2 separate regions of the Homo sapiens genome follow, and region 1 is linked to region 2. The links come from fine-mapping of genetic effects on gene expression. A gene starts in region 2. The other region holds a variant in brackets. All regions are shown on one strand. Distances are from middle to middle.

What was found.
Region 1: its variant is fine-mapped to the expression of IPO13 in lymphoblastoid cells (GENCORD, PIP 0.95).

The regions. Positions count from the first base shown.
Region 1 is chr1:43,797,964-43,805,963 of GRCh38, forward strand. The region is part of intron 3 of ST3GAL3 (ST3 beta-galactoside alpha-2,3-sialyltransferase 3); the gene reads left to right. Among named protein-coding and RNA genes, the nearest start is that of MIR6079, 37 kb to the right of the region's middle. The variant A/G (reference allele first, on the strand shown) is at 3,768.
Region 2 is chr1:43,942,060-43,953,539 of GRCh38, forward strand. IPO13 (importin 13) reads left to right here and starts at 4,891. Exons shown (of 20, transcript NM_014652.4): 1 at 4,891-5,625; 2 at 7,358-8,094. The coding sequence starts at 5,542. It overlaps LOC101929609 (a long non-coding RNA gene), which reads right to left and starts at 4,540. Exons shown (of 2, transcript NR_188535.1): 1 at 4,422-4,540; 2 at 2,296-2,737. RefSeq lists a silencer at 4,687-4,936.

The DNA.
Region 1 (8,000 bases), 150 kb before region 2:
TAAAACACATAGCAGCTTCCCGAAACCAAATACTTATGTGTAAATGCTTATATATAAATCTGATGAAACATATATAGGAGCTGTATGCTGAAACTAGTTCCTCTCCCACTTTTTCTTCCCCATCTACCCAACTGAAAGTTCAGGCTGCAAACCTAGAATCACCCTGATTGTTCCTCTTCCTTTACCCTCTCCCCCTTTCCTGTCTTCACAATGTGTTCTTCTCTAGCCGCTTCTTTCTAGCACCACTGCCCAAGGTACCATCTTCTCTTCCCTAGACTAGAAACATCTCCTGACTGGCCTGTCTGTGCCACTTATTGCCTTCTGTACCTTGTAGCCAGAGTAATCTTCCAGAAACCTAAATCGGATCCTGTCTTGTTACCACTGAAGCCTCTCCAGTGACCTTACAGTACATTTACAATAAAATCCAAACTTGTCCCTCCTTCCTGAGTCCTACTTAACCTCTCCAATTTCCCTGTAGTTCATTTGCCTTCAGCCCACTGCCCTCACGCTACATTGGCATGCCTGTGGCTCCTTGAGGATGTCAGGTCCTTTCCTGCCTCAGGGTCTTTGTGCTTGCTGTTCCCACTTCCTAGACTGTTCTTACCTCCTGCTTTGCGTTGCTGTCTTCAGGCCTCTGTCCCACTGTCACCTCCGCCAGAAGGTCTTCCCAGACCACTTCATCTAAAGTAGTCCACTCCTCTAACCAGTCCTTCTCTAAAAAAGTATGTCTTCAGTTTTTCTTAGCATGCCTCCTTCCTTCAAACTATTTGCTTATTTACTTGCACACTGTCAATCTCCCCTACTAAAATGTAGGCTTCATTTTGGCCAAGGACTTGGTCTGTTTTGTTCATCACTGTATCGCCGGTATTTAGAATGCGTCTGGCACATAATAGGTGCTAAGTAGGTGTTAAATAAATAGGTGTTAAAGAATAGAAAATTAGGAACAACAATATTCACTAATTAAGGAGTGCTTGAGGTCAAATAAATAATGGCATATCCATTCATTGGAGTAACTGCAGTCATTTAAAATGATGATGCAGTTTTACTTTTATTGACACAGACGATGTCGAGGATATTGTTGAGTGAACAAAACAAACAAACAGCATGCATATTAAGGCCAAGTGTAGGTAAAATTATGTATGTACGTTCATACATATACAGTATTTATGGAAAGAGATTTCTGGGAAAATAGTCACCAAAATATTTGTAGCAGTTAGCCCTAGGTAAATAGGGGTTTCAAATGGTTCTTACTTCATTCTTTATAAGTGTTTTGGATTTGGATTTTTGTATTGAGCATATGTTATTTTAATAACTGGGAAAAAATTAAGTTATTTTTGTTTGGGGAGTAGAGCTCTCTCTTATTTTGTTTAATAATTGCTTTGTGATTGTCGTAGTCTCTTTGGGCTGCTATAACAAAAATACCTTAGACTGGGTAATTTATAAACAACAGAAATTTATTGCTCACAGTTCTGAAGGCTGGGAAGTCCAAGATCAAGACATCAGCAGATTCAGTGTTTGGAAAGGGTCCATTCCTCATAGATGGAACCTTCTGTGTGTGTCCTAACAAGACAGAAGAGGCAAATAGGCTCCCTCAGCCCTCCCTGATAAAAATATCAATCCCATCCTAGGGGTGGAGCCCTCATGACCTAATTACCTTCTAAAGGCCCTACCTCTTAATACTATCACATTGGATATCAGGTTCCAGCACATGAATTCACAGGGGACACCCAACATTCAGACCATTTCAGTGAGTATTTATGCCCTATCTATCCCATGAGGTGGTAAGCTCCATGAAGTTTAAGATACAAACTGCAGAGTGAGCCATTTTTTCCCATTTCCTGTACCAGCAGCTGTTTTGACATGCTGTCCCTCCTAATCCTCCTGCAGCTTAGTGCAAGATGCCCTGGGATGGCCCGGACACAGTTGATGCTGTGAATAGGATTAAATTCACTGCAGTACTCAGCCCTAGATATCTGCTATTTTCCCAAGACAGAAGAGAGATAGATGGGTGCAGTGACATTTTTGGCTGCTGTGGGAGGGGGCTTCCAGGGCTCCTTCTGTAGCCTGTGATTCTCTTACCTGGGGCCAAGGACATGTCATGCTCCCTTGGCCCCCAGTATGCCACGTTGGAGAAGAGCTGTGCTGTGCTCAGATGGAGGCCTGATAGTCACAGGGGACTCTGTTACCAGAAGCTTCCTACTAGGCCTCTCACCTCCCCCACACCAACATACACCCATTTGAGATTGGATCTTAGTTTGTAAACTTCTAAGTTATTTTACTGAATCAGTTAATTTAGTCTAGGTCAGTGGGCTTTTCTGTGTTTATTTTAGAAAAATGCTTTTCCTTTTAGTTTCTCTTTGATTAATTGATCCCATGTTGTGGTTTATTTCCCTGACTTGAGATGATGTGGGAGCTATTTGCACTTTGGCCAGACCTTCTCAGGCCTCTTTTGACTCCCATGATTCATGTGTGGTATGGCCAGGGCCTTCTGACATCACCCTGGGGCAGGAGATGGGAGGTAATAGTACATCATTGCTGTCATGGAAACTGTGCTGCTAATGTGAGGGTCTGCTTTTCTTGTTTCCTCTGAGAGTCATTGTGGGCATAACGTAAAGGAAAGAATCAGCCCTGGGTTGGTTCCACGGCATCCCTGCTAGCCTACTTCATGATTGGGGGATCTTGAACATATCTCCCCTGTCTAAACCTCTCTTTCCTCATCTGTAAAATATAGTACCTGCCTCATGGGGCTGTATAGGTGACAGTACTGAGAACAGCATGAATACAAAGGAAGATGCTCAATAAATAGTAGTTCCTCTCAGTCCCTTCATTCTGCAAGCCTGACAGCCCATTTGGAACTATTGCCAACTTCTTCCTCCACCCAAGCCATGGCATATATTACATATGTTTAATATACCCCATGACTTTTTTTTAGAGATTGTACAGTGACATTTCTTAAGAAATGATAGAGCTGTTTTGGCTAGGGTAGGTCCTCATTCCATTTACTGCCATTCCCTTCGTACTTAGCAATTCATCATAGCCCAGAGATTGGAGCCAAAGACCACTTTAAAGAAGATCTGGCAGCAGAGCTGCTTCTCTGGGTAAATGGAGTTTTCTTGCCTCATGGACTATCCTGCCTATGTGGCTTTGTGAATTATAATTCGAAGCACGGCAATTTCTGATAGAACCAAGTTCATGTTTTTATCCCATAAAATACCAAACTTTATATACCTCAATAATGCTCCTTAAATTGGTGTTCATGGGCAATATTTGTGGTTGTCATCAGTAGCAGTCATTTAATAAGCATCTTCTTTGTGCCAGGTACAGTGACAGCTGATTGGAATTTGTGGTGGTTCATTACAATGAAAAAAGGAAGTGGGTCACTCACAACGGAAATGCCAGTAGCATGTTAGGCTCATCATGTACAACCGTATTCCTTGAAATTCCATTCTGGGGCTCAGTAGCCTGAAGGTGAGGCTACAGTAGGACACCTGGCTTCAGGAACCTTCAAGAAGCTCTCTCTTTTGTCCTGGAACAGGATGTGACTGCACAGCCTGGTGCTCCCAACTGCACGTCAGAATGTAGGTAGGAAGTAATACTTATGTGCTATACTAGGACAAATAGGAGAGGACTTGGAGTTGTCTACATAGGGCATTGTGAAAACATTTGTGATTTTTTTTTTTTTTTAATATTACAGAACTGTGATGAACAGGCCAGGTATGGTGGCTCACACCTGTAATCCCAGCACTTTGGGAGGCCAAAGCAGGAGG[A/G]TCAGTTGAGCCCAGGAGTTTGAGACCAGTCTGGGCAACATGGTGAAACCTGTCTCTACAAAAAAATAAAAAATTAGCCAGGCGTGGTGGCATTGCACCTATAGTCCCAGCAGCATTGCACCTCTAGTCCCAGCAGCATTGCGCCTTTAGTCCAAACTACTCAGGAGGCTGAGATGGGAGGGTCACCTGAGCCCAGGAGGTCAAGAGTGGGACGATCCGAGTTTGCACCACTGCACTCCAGCCTGGGTGACAGAGTGAGACCCTGTGTCAAACAAACAAACAAACAAACAAACCAAAAAGAACTATGATGAGCAAAATGAAACACAAAGTATTAAGAAATTTATTAAATATTGAATTGCTATACCATAAAAATCTTTTCAAGTTTTTAATTAAAAACTAGAGCTTGTTTCGGTGTTCATAAATTTTTATTCAGGAGTTTTGTCTGGGAAGGCTTCACATAACTCCTGTCAAGGCTTTTTAATGATACTCTCTTAAAAAATACTCAGTTATCATCAAAAACTCACACAAATAACTGACAAAAATATAAAATCATTTTTATACTTATTCAGATGTTTACAGCAGTTGAAATTATATTTTAAAAATCCAACAGTTCTTCCTTTTCCTTAATCAAAATTGTAAGGTTGAAATTTCTTCAGTTAGAACAAATGGATTTCAAATCTAATCTCACTTTTTTGTATCAGGTATTTCAAAATAGCGTGAAGCTCTGTTGCAAAATGTATATGAATTCTTAGAGCAGTCACCCTGGAGTTGGTTGGAGATCATAAAAGGCTACATTCAATGCACATAAGCAGCGATACTACCCAATATGTGAGAACAGGTGTGTTGCCCTTCACCTGGAGCTGTGCTCCCCTGGGAGTCCCCACCTGGCTGGCCTGCCACTGACCAGCAGCCTCTTGGGCAACACTCTGCTCCATGAGTTTTTCATGCAACATTTTTCATGGAACATAATTTTTACTTGAAAGTACAATTGACAGACTGTGGTTTTTTCAGACTTTGGAATTTGGCAGACATTTTCTCAGTAATGAAAGTGAGCATTATCACTTCAAGGGAAATAACTGACAGTATTTTGTTGCCGGCAATAAAATGTTATTCCATGCAATAGCTTCTCAATACTTAAATTTTAAATTAAGAGTTGGAGGCTGACCCTATGTTATGGCCTCACAGTTGGTTGGTTTTTGTTTTGTTTTGTTTTTGTTTTTGAGACAGAGTCTCACTCTGTCGCCCAGTGCAATGGCGCCATCTCGGCTCACTGCAGCCTCCACCTCCCGGGTTCAAATGATTCTCCTGCCTCAGCCTCCCAAGTAGCTGGGACTACAGGCACGTGCCACCACACCTGGCTAATTTTTGTATTTTTAGTAGAGACGGGGTTTCACTGTATTGGCCAGGCTGGTCTTGAACTCCTGACCTTGTGATCCGCCCGCGTTGGCCTCCCAAAATGCTGGAATTACAGGCATGAGCCACCATGCTTAGCCTGGTCGGGTTTTGTAAATGCTCCCTACATGTCTTGTAGGCCGGGCACAGTGGTACGCACCTAGAGTCCCAGTTACTCGGGCTGAGGTGGGAGGATCACTTGGGCCCAGCAGTTTGAATCCAGCCTGGGCAGCATAGCAAGATCCCACCTCAAAAAAAAAAAAAAGGAATGTGCATTCACCATTTGTTGGATGTAAGGTTCTCTGTATGTCTGTTAGTTTAAATTTAGTAATTGTTCTGTTCAAATCTTCTGAATTCTCACAGACTTTGTGAGCCCGATTTTTCAGTGGTTTATGATGGTAGACCAACGGTGTCATTTTCTTTTAGTTCTGTTAATTTTGCTTTATATGTAACAAGGTTTCATTATTACATGTATTCACACTTTAATGCATGGGATCCTTTTGTTTATGTCCAGTTTCTGAACCTTTTAAGAGTTTACATCAGTGTTCCAGTGTTCATCCAACAAGTTATATGAATCTTTTGCTATGACATCTAGACTGACTTATTCCTTTAAGGCGGCAATGGAAGAGTTAATGGTTAATTTCAAAGACGTCTGAAAAAGCACTTTGTGCATTCACAGCTCTGACTTGGTGCACGTGCAGGAGGGGAAGGTCAGGGATTTGCATCAGCCATGTCACTCCCCACCTGGAGCTGGGCAGAGACACACGTGCTCCTTGGTCAGTGATTTTTGTAATCCTGGGCTTTCCAGCCTGGCCAAAGCAGGAAGCCTAAGCCATCAGACTAAACACTTCTGCTGGCTTTCTGCTTTCATACCTGGGGAGGAGAGTATCTTCAGGTGCTAGGAGAGCTGGAATATGAGTGCATATTGTGCCTGGCTGGCCTGGGATTCCTAGAGTGTTCTGTTCTTTGTACAGATCTGGGATCATTGGGCTGCTGGTGAGACCCAGACTTTCATGCCACTACCCGAGAGGTGAATAGTCCCTGAAGTGTTGGTACACTCAAAATAGCAGTTCCTCTGTATAAGGCAAATTCACATGCAACTCTAAGAACACATTTGTATAAAGGAGATGCGCTGGGATCTGTAACCTTGCCCAACCCCAGCAGTAGAGAAGCTCTGCTCCTGTATTCCTGGAGTATAATGCCTATGCCTTCCTGATTGCTTTCTTTTCTCATTTACACTTCCTAAAGATGATGCTTAAATTTTCCTGCTAGTCAGGGAACTCTGTGAGGGGCCACACACAGACTGAATAATCAGTAACATGACTATGAGGCTGGGGCTGAGAGTAAAGTGCTTGTCAGGTAAAGACCTTGGTTGAGATGGAGCAGACAGACGCCAGTGACTCAGGTGACTCAGGAAGTCTTTGTGGAGAGGGTTAAATTTCAGGCCTTTATACATGATGGGAGGGAACTACCTTGGCAAACTGGGAGTTCTTAAAAGGGAACCCCAAAGCAAAACTCAGAAAATAGAAGGTGTGAAGGGCATTAAATAAACAGTGTGGCAGACAGTTAGTTGCGCCTAAGAAGAGCCAGAGGAGGCTCGCTGTGGGCAGGTGACAGTGATGTAATCAGATAGGCTGGGAGCCAGGAAGGGCCAGAGCAAGGGAATCACTGCAGTCGAAGATGGCAGGCGAGGGAGAAGGAGAGGGAGAGGAAGCCCCTGCTGCTGCCATCACTGCTACCACCAGCACTGCCCCCTCACTGCAAGGGGTGGAGGAAGACAAAGACTCCAGGTCTCAGGGCACTTACTAGGCTGCCTTGCTTATTTGGTCACTCTTTCCACTCTTCCATCCATTCAGTACATTATGGAATACCAACTCTGTGCCAGATGTGATATTGGGTGCAGAGGTGAGCCCTGCCCTTTATGAGAACCCAAATACATGTAAGCTAGGATAGTTTAATTGAAAGCAACAAAAACTGACTGGGGATAACTGTTTTTAAAAAGGAATTTACCAGAAGGACATGGGTACCCACAGAATCCAATTGGAAGCTAAACATCGAGCCCTCAGAAAGAACATGAAGGGCAGCCCCAGGAATCTAGGTTGCAGGAACAAGTGGTCCCCCTCTTCAGCACATTATTTTTCTCCCTCGTGTCGCTGAGTTTAGGGAAGAAATTGTCCCACTAACCTAGCTTTTGTCAGGTGCCTACACTTTGGACATAAATCCCATCGACAGTCTCACCACTTGCCTGCAATGGGAGAAGAGCAGTTCCCTGAAGGAAACCCAAGGGGCTTGTTTCTAAAAGGACAGAAACAACAGATGTGCATTGCAGGTTCATGAATAAGTTCTGGAAGGGCTGGAGAGCACAGATAAGGTGCATTTAGGCTAACAAGTTAGATCAGAGAAGATGTTGTTCGTTCAACATTCCTTCCACATGCCAAGCATAGTGTTAGGTGATGCACCTGTGAGGAAAAGAAGAGTCTTAGTGGAACTTCTAGACTAGCAGAGGAGAGGCGTCTGTCGGTAAATGTATAATCACAAACTGGAGAAAGTACACTGTGGCACAGGAGCATTTGAAGGGTGAGGTCTACATAGGGAGGACAAGGAACGCTCTTCTTTTTTTTCTTTTCTTTTTTGACGGAGTCTCACACTGTCACCGAGGCTGAAGTGCAGTGGTGCGATCTCGGCTCACGGTAACCTCCACCTCCTGGGTTCAGGCAGTTCTCCTGCCTCAGCCTTCTGAGTAGCTGGGATTACAGGCACGCACCACCACACCCGGCTAATTTTTGTATTTTTAGTAGAAACGGGGTTTCACCGTGTTGGTCAGGCTGGTCTTTAACTCCT
Region 2 (11,480 bases):
ACCCTAGGTAGGGGTAAACAAGTACCCCAGTAGAAGTATGACTGAGGTTATAGGTATGTGTGTCAAGGAGGGGGCAGATTCTACAATCACAAAGGAAGAGGAATCAGTTTTTTCCTGGATAGACGCAGAAGAGGAAAAGTCTTTGTGGAAAAGGTGGTATTTGAACTGAGTCTTGAAAAATGAGTTTGTTTGCACAGGGTGGATTATAGGGTGGATGAGAGGCATGGAACCCGAACTGGTTATTGCTGATTGCCTTTATTTCCTCTCACTTCTAAATGTACACTGTTCATTGTGGCCATGTCCTGTCCTGCACGGTGTGGTTCTCAGCCCTGGACAGGAATGGAGTGGAGAGGTGAGGGCCTCTTCCTTGGGCTCTCCATCTCAGCCTGAAGACTCTGCTAGTCCTATATTCTTTAGATTTTTATTTGTTTATTTATTTATTTATTTACTTCTTACTAGCCAGTTCATCACAGCTTCAATTCCCTGTTACACTTCAAAATGCTTATGTTGAACTTTCCCTGCCTGCTGACTGTGTGATGTCTCTCTCCTGATGGCATCCAGAATGACACAGAGCCTTCTCAACAGAGGAAGTAGCATGAACAAAGACAGGGAAGTGTGAAACAGCCTGGTGCGCTCCCAGGATTGCCAGCAACTTCAGGTGGACTTGGGGAGGGTCCTCATCAAGACAAAAGACTGGAGAGGTCACAAAGGGCTTTGAATGTTATACCGAGAAGCTCAGCCTTCGCTCTGAAAGGAGCCACTAAAGGGTTTTAAGTGGGCTTGGTTAGAGATGTGTTTCAGATGGATCACTTGCTACTGTGTCTAGTATGGATGGAAGAGGCAAGGTGGGTGCCAGCTAGAGCTGCCATAGTTAGAGCCGTTCAGGCAACAAGCACAGGTACCTTGAGTTAGGGCAGAAGCAAATGTGCAAGGACAGAAGAGATGTGAGGGACAATAAGAGAGGTGAGGGCTGGATGAGAGATGGTTTCCAGGTGTCTAGCTTGGGGGACTGGTACAGAACACAGGGGATGTAGTATTTTAGCATGTGATAGGGGTAAGATGTGGGGAAAATGTGAGTTCAGTTTTGTACATGTTCAACTTTGGGTGCCTGTGGCAACTTCAGAGGGCCAGGAGGCAGCTAAATATGCAGGTTTGAAACCCAGGACAGTCTGGGCTGGAGAAATCCAAGGAGTCACAGCTTGAAGCCAGGGGAGTGGTGAGATAATGAGGCATAAGACAAGAAGCGGAGACTAAGGAGGACCAACATTTAAGGAACAGGTGGAGGAACAGGGATGGGCCAGTGAAGGAAACCAAAAAGGAGTAGTCAGAGTGTCGGGAAAAACAAAACCAAACAGAAGAGCTGAGGGACTGGTCAATAGGGCCAGATGCAGCACAAAAATCAAGCTGCATCAGAACCGAAAACTGCCCGTTAGGTTTTCTTGCAACATGGTGGCCTAAGGACTTGGGCTAAACTTCCTCCTGAAAACAACTTTAAATACTAGACTCTATCTATCTTTAAAATTAAATGCATCCATAAGCTAGCAAAAATGTAAGAAACACACTGAGGCCAAAAAAGTAAATGAAAGCAAGAAGCTACAAAGGTAAGCAAAGCTCTGTCATTGGCTTTCATCTTGAGGGCAGTTGCCGAACCCAGAGAACCTGATCATTGGTTTTCAAGGGGTCTCTGGGCTTATGAGAAAGACAAAGCCCAGGGCCCCCTCACCATGGGGAGTCTATTTAGAAACTTCTCCATAAGGCCAGGACCTCAAAGGCCAGTGTATGCCTACACTGTGAAGGTGAATTAGAAAGAAACCTGCCCCTGTCTGACCTAACCTCTCTCCCTCAAACCAGGGGACTACAAAGAAAACTGCCTACATCCAACCTTGGTACTAAGAAAGGGGAATAATCTCCCCCTGAGAATTCTTTTTTTTCTTCTTCTTCTTTTTTTTTTTTTTTTGAGACAGAGTCTCGCTCTGTTGCCCAGGCTGGAGTGCAATGGCGCGATCTCAGCTCACTGCAACCTCCACCTTCCAGGTCCAAGAGATTCTCCTGCCTCAGCTTCCCAAGTAGCCGGGACTACAGGTGCCCGCCACCACACCAGGCTAACTTTTGTATTTTTAGTAGAGACAGGGTTTCACCGTGTTAGCCAGGCTGGTCTCGAACTCCTGACCTCGTGATCCACCCACCTCAGCCTCCCAAAGTGCTGGTGGCATGAGCCACTGCGCCCGGCCTCCCGCTGAGAATTCTTAACTGCAAGCAGGCAGTCGTCTGGTTTTGCAGACCAAATTCACATGATTTTGGTAGGCTGAAAAACTTCAAAGTGATCATTTAATTTGACATGAACATGGATTGGTAGTGGTTCCAGGTGACCAACAAAAGCTCCCTCTCCTCCTCTGCTGAGTTTTGGGATGTTCCCTCCTGAATCTGCAGACCTCTCCCAGGGTTGCCACAGGTTCTTGCCCCTATAGGTCTACACTTGTTCCTTAGAGAAGAAAGAGCCCTTCTGGCTCCCAAAGACTTATCTGCCACTTGGCTCTGAGCTATCCTGCACTAACATCCAAATCTCCTGGAGATCACCTTTGGTCTGGCCTCCGGAAATGCCCCCAACTCTCCCCAGGGCCTACTTCAGTCCATCTGTCCTAAATAGTGTTTGCAAAGGATGTTCAGGAGTCATTGCTGTGAGACTGGGCTTCTTTCTCTGCCAGATCCCTGGAACCTCCAGGGATGAGGAGGAGCCCTGGATGGGAAGCAGGAAGAAAACACATACTGACTAAGTTGTGGTCTCTGGGCTGAGCCCCCCACCCCTAAAACCCCTTAACTAAAATGAGTTTCAGAAGAAGCTAAGGTCTCATTGCTAGAAAGAGGCATAAACAGGTTTTGAACTCAGGACTAAGTCCAGAATTTGTGCATTTAAACCCCACTCCCAACACCATCTCCCCTGCCCACCACCACCTCCACCAGTGAAACCGCCAGCCAGCACCAGGCCCAAGGTATTTCACACCCTAGGCACAGGCCTGGAATCAGTTACTTTATTTTGGCTTTCTATTTCCTCCTTCCAAATGTCTCCTGCCTCTCTTTCTTCCTTCAATTTGTCTTTCATGTTGCAGATTTTTCTAAAATGCAAATGTAATCATCATTGCTCACTTGAAACCCCATCATGGTTTCATATTGCACTTAGGATAATGTCCAAACTCCTACAAGAATCTATTGCCACCAACTTGTCTTTCCAACCTCATCTCTGTTACTCATACCCTTCCCCTTCCCCACCCCACATATATTCTCTTAAAATGAATATAAATTACTTACTATTCTTTCTTTTCTTTTCTTTTTTTTTTTTAGACGGAGTCTCACTCTGTCGCCCAGGCTGGAGTGCAGTGGCGTGATCTCAGCTCACTGCAAGCTCCACCTCCCGTGTTCAAGCCATTCTCCTGCCTCAGCCTCCCGAATAGCTGGGACTACAGGTGCCTGCCACCATGCCCGGCTAATTTTTTGTATTTTTAGTAGAGACGGGGTTTCACCGTGTTAGCCAGGATGGTCTCGATCTCCTGACCTCGTGATCCGCCCGCCTCAGCCTCCCATAGTGCTGGGATTACAGGCGTGAGCCACCGCGCCCGGCCTACTTGCTATTCTTTATTGATGAAGACTTGCTGAATGACTTAGAGTCCTACTGGATTTTGCTTACCAGCTAAATGGGCCCCTCTCCTTCCCAGGCTCTCTATTCTTCAAGCTCAGATCAAGTTTCTCTTCTCAGGGAAGCCTTCATGGACCTTCTCAGGCCTCAGCAGCTGCTGCCAATGCCAGCTTCCAATGCCAGCTTCCTCCATTTGAACAAAACTACGGAGCTCTTTGCACTTTTAATTTTTTCCTCTTCCCTGCTAGGGTAGCTGGCAGGAGTTAATAAACAATAAAATACAACTGGAGGGGTGACAGGCAGGAACTACCGGGGCCTGTGGCAGACCAGATCTATGGCATGGTCTGCCACCCTGTCTGTGTGCCAGGGGCAAGATAAGCCTAACTTTCCCCAAGCTCGATTTCCTCATCTCATCTGAAAATGATGAATAAAAATATCCACCTCAGAGCTATTAAGAAAACTGAACCTAAGGTAAGCAAAGTCCTGCTCCTAGCACTTAAATGTAAGCTACTCTTACTCTAGTTACACATAAAGTTACTTCCAAAAACCTTACGAAATTCCCCGAGCACTGTCCATGGTATGTGGTTTCCCGGTTGCTTATTGGGTGGTCCCGAGAGCCTTCCTTTTTTCCTTCCTGAGGCGTGCCAAGTCCCCTCTCCTCTTCTCTGGGTGGTGCTGACGCCTTCTTCCCAGGCTGCACCTTTGCTGGGCCGGAGGATGCCCCCGGCAGCGGAGCGCCAGAGTGACCAGGCAACCTCCCCAGCCTCCACCCTCTAGCCCGGGCTCCCACCTCCGTCCTCCGGCCCCTCGAGTCACGTCGTCCTACTAAGGAGTTGGGCCGCAGCGCCCCGCGCCGGTCTGACCCGGAATGCCTGCTCGCCGCGGTAGGCCGAGGACAGGCGGGGCTCTGCAGGTCCCCAACCCACGTGCTCCCGGCCTCCTCCGCAGGGCGCCGCCTTCCGGCTAGGCGCAACACGGACTACATTTCCCAGGGTGAACAGCGGCGGGGCCTAGACTCGGCCGCGGCCTGGGGCGGCGAGCCGCTCCACCGCCTGCTCAGGGGAGTGCGAGCTGGCGCGAGGACAGGGCTAAGGACCCGGAATGAGTTTCCGCGCAGTTCCGCTGGGCCGTGCCGGCCTGTACCGGGCCGTGCCGAGCCAGAACTGGCAGGAGTGGGGGCCTGAGTTGGAGGTGCCGGGGACAGGCGCTCGGGGCAGCCCGCGCCTTGCCGAGGTCCCTGCCCCGTCCCGGCCGGCCTGGCTTGTCTTGTCAGTCACTGGGGCGGAGGCAGCGGCTGTAGCGGGGCTGTAGCCGGGCGTTGAGCACAGCGCGGGCCAGGCCGAACGGAAGGGACCTGCCACAGCCCCTCAACTCCACGGACTCTTCGCCCTAGACTAGCGGAGCTGCATCTCCGCGCTTCGTTGGACGCCTCCGTAACCACGAAGGGCTCTCTCTCTCCCGTGACCCTCCAGCCCCATGACCTGTTCATAGCAGCCGAGAGCTCACCCAGGCGGGGGTGTTGTGGGTACAGGCCATCGACCCTGTGACCCCTCAAGAGCCAGGGACTCGGTTTCCCCCGCAGGCCTCCCTCCCCTGTGACTCCCTCCACACAGATTCTGGGGACAGAGCTGTTACCTGCCACTAGGATCCCCGCCTGAGAGCTCCTCACTGACGGCTCCCTCCTCGGAGTCCCCTTCATTGGGTCTCCTAAGAGCACCAATTTTGGTCTCTGGCAAGCCTCCCACCCCCAAACGAGGTGGGGAGGCCTCGGCAGCCATGCCCGCCCTGGGCCCCCCCTCACCCCACCACTCCCTGGGCACCCAAGCCGGGGTCTAGCAGGGGGCCAGCAGCCAAGGGGCTGGGGCAGGAGACAGATCAGGGCCCACCTCCCTGCCAGGGAGGGAGCAAAGATGGAGCGGCGGGAGGAGCAGCCGGGGGCTGCAGGGGCTGGAGCAGCACCAGCCTTGGACTTCACTGTGGAGAACGTGGAGAAGGTATGAGGGCTCTGGGGTGGGCACTCCAGTGACAGAGCAGAAGTTCTGGGGACTGTCACTGATGGCAGAGCTCAGGCCTGGGCTGGGTGCCCGCTGGTATGGTGCCCCCAGAGCACCTGGCATTTGCTCTCTTTCTGGGCAGGCAGTATTGCAGTGCCCTAATGGGCTATTTTTGTCTTTCCTTACAGGCAGGTCCCCTGTGGATAGATACTCTAGGGTCTTGGGATGGTCCCTTCAGGGTGCTGTGACTTAGCCTTCCGTCCAGACTGGCTATGTTCCAGCTCCATGGGAACTGCATGAGCAGTGCAGTAGGAAACTGGGAACCCAGGAGACCTGCAGCTCAGTCTCCTGGAATTATACTGATGCCAAACCATCCTGGACCTGGTTTTGTTGAGCCAAGGGCTCAGAAAATAATCTGGAACTAAAACAATCTGGGTTGTTTTGACTCTTTGGAGAAGGGTCCTTCCTTTATTGGATGGAAGCCAGACCAGTCCTGAGCAGGCAGGCCTGGGGCTGTCTCCCTTTGTTTTGTGCTGAGTCCAAGGGTCCTGGCCCTGCTGGGAGCCTTACAGGGCTCCTCCCTACTCGCCTGCCCACATAGCTCCCTGCCATGGCCCTCCCAGGCTCCCCGACTGCCCAGCCCATCTTTCTGAACTGCCTCTTTGGTTCTTTTCTGTATCTGCTCCCTACAACTTGAAATGCAGGAATGCATGCACCCTGGGATGAATGGGGAGATGGGGCTCCCTTACTTGAAAGCAGGGAATGATGTTCACTTGTTATCCTTAACCCCCGTTTGCCATAACAAACAATGAGGATGCATCTCTTCTGCCTGCTTTGGCGTCCCTGAGGGGCCAAACAAGGGCCAATGGCCATAACTGGCTGTCAGGGGTACAAATAGAGCTAAGCTTACTTGGATGGAGCCTGCTTAGGGGTCAGGGTCCTGGCCATACTCTTCCGCCCCTTGGAGCAGGGCAGTGTTGGCATGGTGGCGCACTGTTCCATGTGCTATTGGGAGATAAATCTCACTGTTTTCTTACTTCATAAAGTCCCGTTGGAATTGAGACCCCGGGGATTCTGCTAGTGGAGAGCACTAAGCTAGGTGTTTGCCAGGGCTGCAGCTATGGCCAAGGCTTCTCTGGATCAATTGGTTGGACATGTGCCCTCTGAGGAGTGTTCTCACCCTCTCCTCCAGCATGTCTGCCCCAGGGCTGCCTGGCAAAAGTCTTAGTCCTGCTCTGATTTCACACTGGCTTTGGTGCCAGCATCTGGACTGACCTAGGGATGATCCTGGGGGAGCTGAAAGGAGCTGTTGGAGTTGATGGGAGCAGCTGTGCCTGGGAGGGTCAAGTCCCCTCAAGCTGTTCCATGCCCTTCTCAGACTTAGCTTCATCCCTGTGAAGCTGTTCCTTCCACCTGGGCCTTGCCCTCAAGTGCCTCCCCTTTGGGGAGATCAGCCTCCTCTTTTTTGCTTTCCTGTGGAGATTCCCTCTCTGAACCCATAATGTTTTGCTGTAAGGAGAAGAGGATATGGTAGAGCATGGGCAAGGTTCAGGCTCTCAAGATATCAGCAGGACCCCAGGCCCAGGAAACACTGCAGAGCGCTGAGCTCTCCCTGCTCAGCCCCCCAGTCAGGGAGAGGGAGCAGCCTTGCAGGACCAAGTCACGCCTCTGTTCTGGGCTCTGGCAGGATCCAGAGTGGCCAGCACCTGCTCAGTCCTGTGCTGTCCTGCAGGCGCTGCACCAGCTCTACTATGATCCCAACATTGAGAATAAGAACCTGGCTCAGAAGTGGCTGATGCAGGCCCAGGTCTCCCCACAGGCCTGGCACTTCAGCTGGCAGCTACTGCAGCCCGACAAGGTACCAGAGATCCAGTACTTTGGGGCCAGTGCTCTTCACATCAAGATCTCTCGCTACTGGAGTGACATCCCCACTGACCAGTATGAAAGCCTAAAGGCACAGCTCTTCACCCAGATCACCCGCTTTGCCAGTGGCTCCAAGATTGTACTGACTCGGCTGTGCGTGGCACTGGCCTCACTGGCTCTCAGCATGATGCCTGACGCTTGGCCATGTGCTGTGGCAGATATGGTACGACTCTTCCAGGCTGAGGACTCACCAGTGGATGGGCAGGGCCGCTGCCTAGCCCTGTTAGAGCTGCTGACAGTGCTGCCTGAGGAGTTCCAGACCAGTCGCCTACCCCAGTACCGCAAAGGCCTGGTGCGGACCAGCCTGGCGGTGGAATGTGGGGCTGTCTTCCCGCTGCTGGAGCAGCTGCTACAGCAGCCCAGCTCACCCAGCTGTGTGCGTCAGAAGGTGCTCAAGTGTTTCTCCAGCTGGGTGCAGCTGGAGGTGCCGCTGCAGGACTGTGAGGCGCTCATTCAGGCTGCCTTTGCTGCTCTGCAGGACTCGGAGCTCTTCGACAGCAGTGTGGAGGCCATTGTGAATGCCATCTCACAGCCTGATGCCCAGAGGTGAGCTAGTACCCACTCACCCAGAAGACAACCTCTTTGGCCAGCCACACATCCATCCATCCATCTGTTCAATAAACATTAATTGAATGTGTACTGATACCTGGTCCTATGCTGGAGATACAGCAAGGAACCAAAGAAGACATGGTCCCTGTCCTCATGGTTCAGACAGGGAGGCAGACATTAAACAACTAATTATCAGTTATTCAATTAAAATATTTGACTCTCTTTTCCTTCTCTCAACTAGTCACCAAGTCCTGGCTGTTCCCCTCCTGACCATATTGCAAATCTATTTTTTTCCATTTCCATTGCTACCACCTTAGTCCAAGCTGTCATCATCTCTCTCCCCAGATTACTGTAGAGCTTGTCCTCACTCTTGTACCCTTCATTGTCCCAGCAGCCACAGTGATCTTTTGAAAATGGGGATCTAATCTTTCTGATCAGAAGCTTTCAGTGGCTTCTCAATGCTCTTAGGTTAAAGCTCAGAATCCTTAATGTGACTCATAATGGTGCTGCACAGTATGGCATCACTGGCCTCATCTCATGCTACTCTCCTTGCTCTCTACACGCTCACACAGTTTCTTTAATTCCTTGAATGTCCCATGTTCCTTTCAGCCTCTGGCTCATTACATATACTTGACACCTTGCCTCAGCTTAAACTTCATTTCCATAGGGAAGTCCTCCATGGATTCTTAAGGCTAAGTTTGATCTTCTCTCTTATATTACCTCAGAGCTCCCAGTATTTTTCCTTCTTAGCCCATAACATGATTTCTCTCACCTCTGTGAGGACAGGGACTCTGTCATTTTACTTTGTCGCATTGTGCTCGGCACATGGTAGCATTTGATATTTTGTGAATGGAGGAAAGTAGGAGTTGCCTGAGTTGGGAGGGGTGGGGCTGGAAGGGATTGGGGGAGGAAGGTGGATTGTTCTAGGCTTTAGGAACCACAGCATGTGCAAAGACTTGTGGGCAGCATCATGATATATTCAAGGGCCCTAAAGAAGTGAGTGTAGTGAAGTGTTTGGCAAATGTTCATTGAGCATGTCCTGTTTTGGGCCCTGTGCTGAGCTCTGGGAGCACAGAGACAAATGCTTTAGCTTCAGTCTCAGGAGCTCACAGTCTAGTGGACACATGAGTGGCAAGTACAATCAACATGATGAATCCTCTGATGGAGAACGCAGGGGCCTTGAAGAACCCAGAGGAGGCTTTCACTGAGTCTGAGGGCTGTGAAAGGATTCGCAGAGGAAGTGACAACCCAGCTGTGTAAGAGTTAGCCAGATGGAAGTGATGGATGGGGAGGACATTCCAGCCCAAGCAAGGGAAGGGTGAAAGCCCAGAGGGTCTGGTGATCTGTAAATCATTAGATGTGATTAGACAGCAAGATTTAAGGGCCAGAGGTATAGGAGACCTGGGCCCAGATCATGCAGGACCTTGGCCAAGTTTAAGATTTTGATCTTCATCCTGAAGACGATATAAAGATATTAAAGGATTATAAGCAGAGAAAATGGCCTACTGAGACTTTTGGTATGAGCTGGATTAGAAGAAGTGAGACTGGAGGTCCTGATGCTGACATTTCAGAGATGGGGCTTTGGGACCTTTGGCAGAATTGGAAGGGAAAACCATTGAAAGAGACTTCATGGAAGAGTGGCTGATGACTCAAGCCTTGGCATTAGTCACATCTAAGTTTGAATCCCAGATGGTTCACTTATTAGATCTGAAATCTTGGATCAGCCATTCCTAAGGCTCCGTTTCCTCATCAATAAAATGGGGATGATCATATCAACCCCACAGAGTTGAAAAGGTTTAAACAGGATAATGTGCACAAGTCCTGCCCCTGGTGTTCGGTAGAGAATATTTTGACTCCTTGAGTAATGGGAGTTCTTTTGTGGTCTCTGCTAGGGTTGGGATGGTCAGTAGCATGCATTTGTACCTTTGGGTTATTGATACGTTACATGTTTTAAAATGGGAACTGTGTGTATATGTTCTACCTTTATACTTTATGTGATCAGTTAATGGTAATTGTTTATTTATTTATTTTGAGACAGAGTCTCACTCTGTCACCCAGGCTGGTGTGCAGTGGCACAATCTCGGCTCACTGCAACCTCCGCCTCCCGGGTTCAAGCGATTCTCTTGCCTCAGCCTCCAGAATAGCTGGGATTACAGGCGTGCATCACCACGCCCAGCTAATTTTTGTATTTTTAGTAGAAACGGGGTTTTGCCATGTTGGTCAGGCTGGTCTTGAACTCCTAACCTCAGGTGATCCATCTGCCTCCGCCTCCCAAAGTGCTGGGATTACAGGTATGAGCCACCATGCCTGGCCAACTGTTCATTTTTTTAAAGAGAAACATAGTTACTATTAAATGGATTAAGGCTGTTTACTTTTAGTACTGGTCATAAGAAGTAGAACTGGAATCATGCAATAGAAAGTGGGCCTAGTTGTTCAGTGGCTAAATTTGAAAAGGAGTTGGTTTCCTATATATATATGTGTGTGTATACATACATATATTTATATGTATATGATACACACACACACATAGATAATGTGCTTAATCACTGCCTTTTGAAACTTTAAATAAAATATTGGGTTGATTTTAAAAAATAAAAGATTGTTTCGGTATGAGGATTAAATAAGAGAATGTGAAGCTTTTAGCATGGTTCCTATATACTCTGTAAACGGCAGTTGCCAGTATTTGGTTTCATTATTGTGTTGGGAGTTATTATGATACTTATCCCCTGGCTTCCCAGGCTTTCCAGCTTAAGGTGGATACCTAATCCCAGATCTCTTGGCAGCCTGAAGCTCAAGTGCTGGGTGGGCTCTGACAGTTGGTGACTAAGGGAAACAGATCAGGGCAAGTGTGTGGGTGATGTGAGGTGTCCTTGGATACACCCAAGTTTACCCGCCCAGCCAGTCTCAAGGGCTTTGGCAGGTAATTGATGCCCCTTCTCCTCTGAACGAATGAGCGAGCAAGGAGCCAGTGAGGTAACCCACAGCCTCCTTGGTGCCCATTGGCTGCAGCCCCTTGGTTGCTTAGCAACTCTCCCCATTTTCTCAGCTCTGCTCCTGAAGCAAAGCTCTAATTGCAGGTCTGGGCTGAGCTCCGTGTGAGCAGCAGCAGAGGAGTCCCAGCAGCCCTGCCTCGGCTACTTGAACTGACCGATTGGAGCCAGGCCTCTTGAACCCAGCCTCAGCTGTGGTCATAAAGACATCCTCCCTGTCTCCTTCCCCCAAACCTAGAAACCTCTGGGACCTCAGACTTGTTCTTCTGTCCACTCACAGGTCGCAGACACAGGTGCTCAGGTGGTAGGAAATTTATGCAAGAACTTCTTCCCATGGGTGAGCTGCATCCAGCCCAGAATCCGAGCCTGGCCCTTGCTCTCCCCAGTCTAATT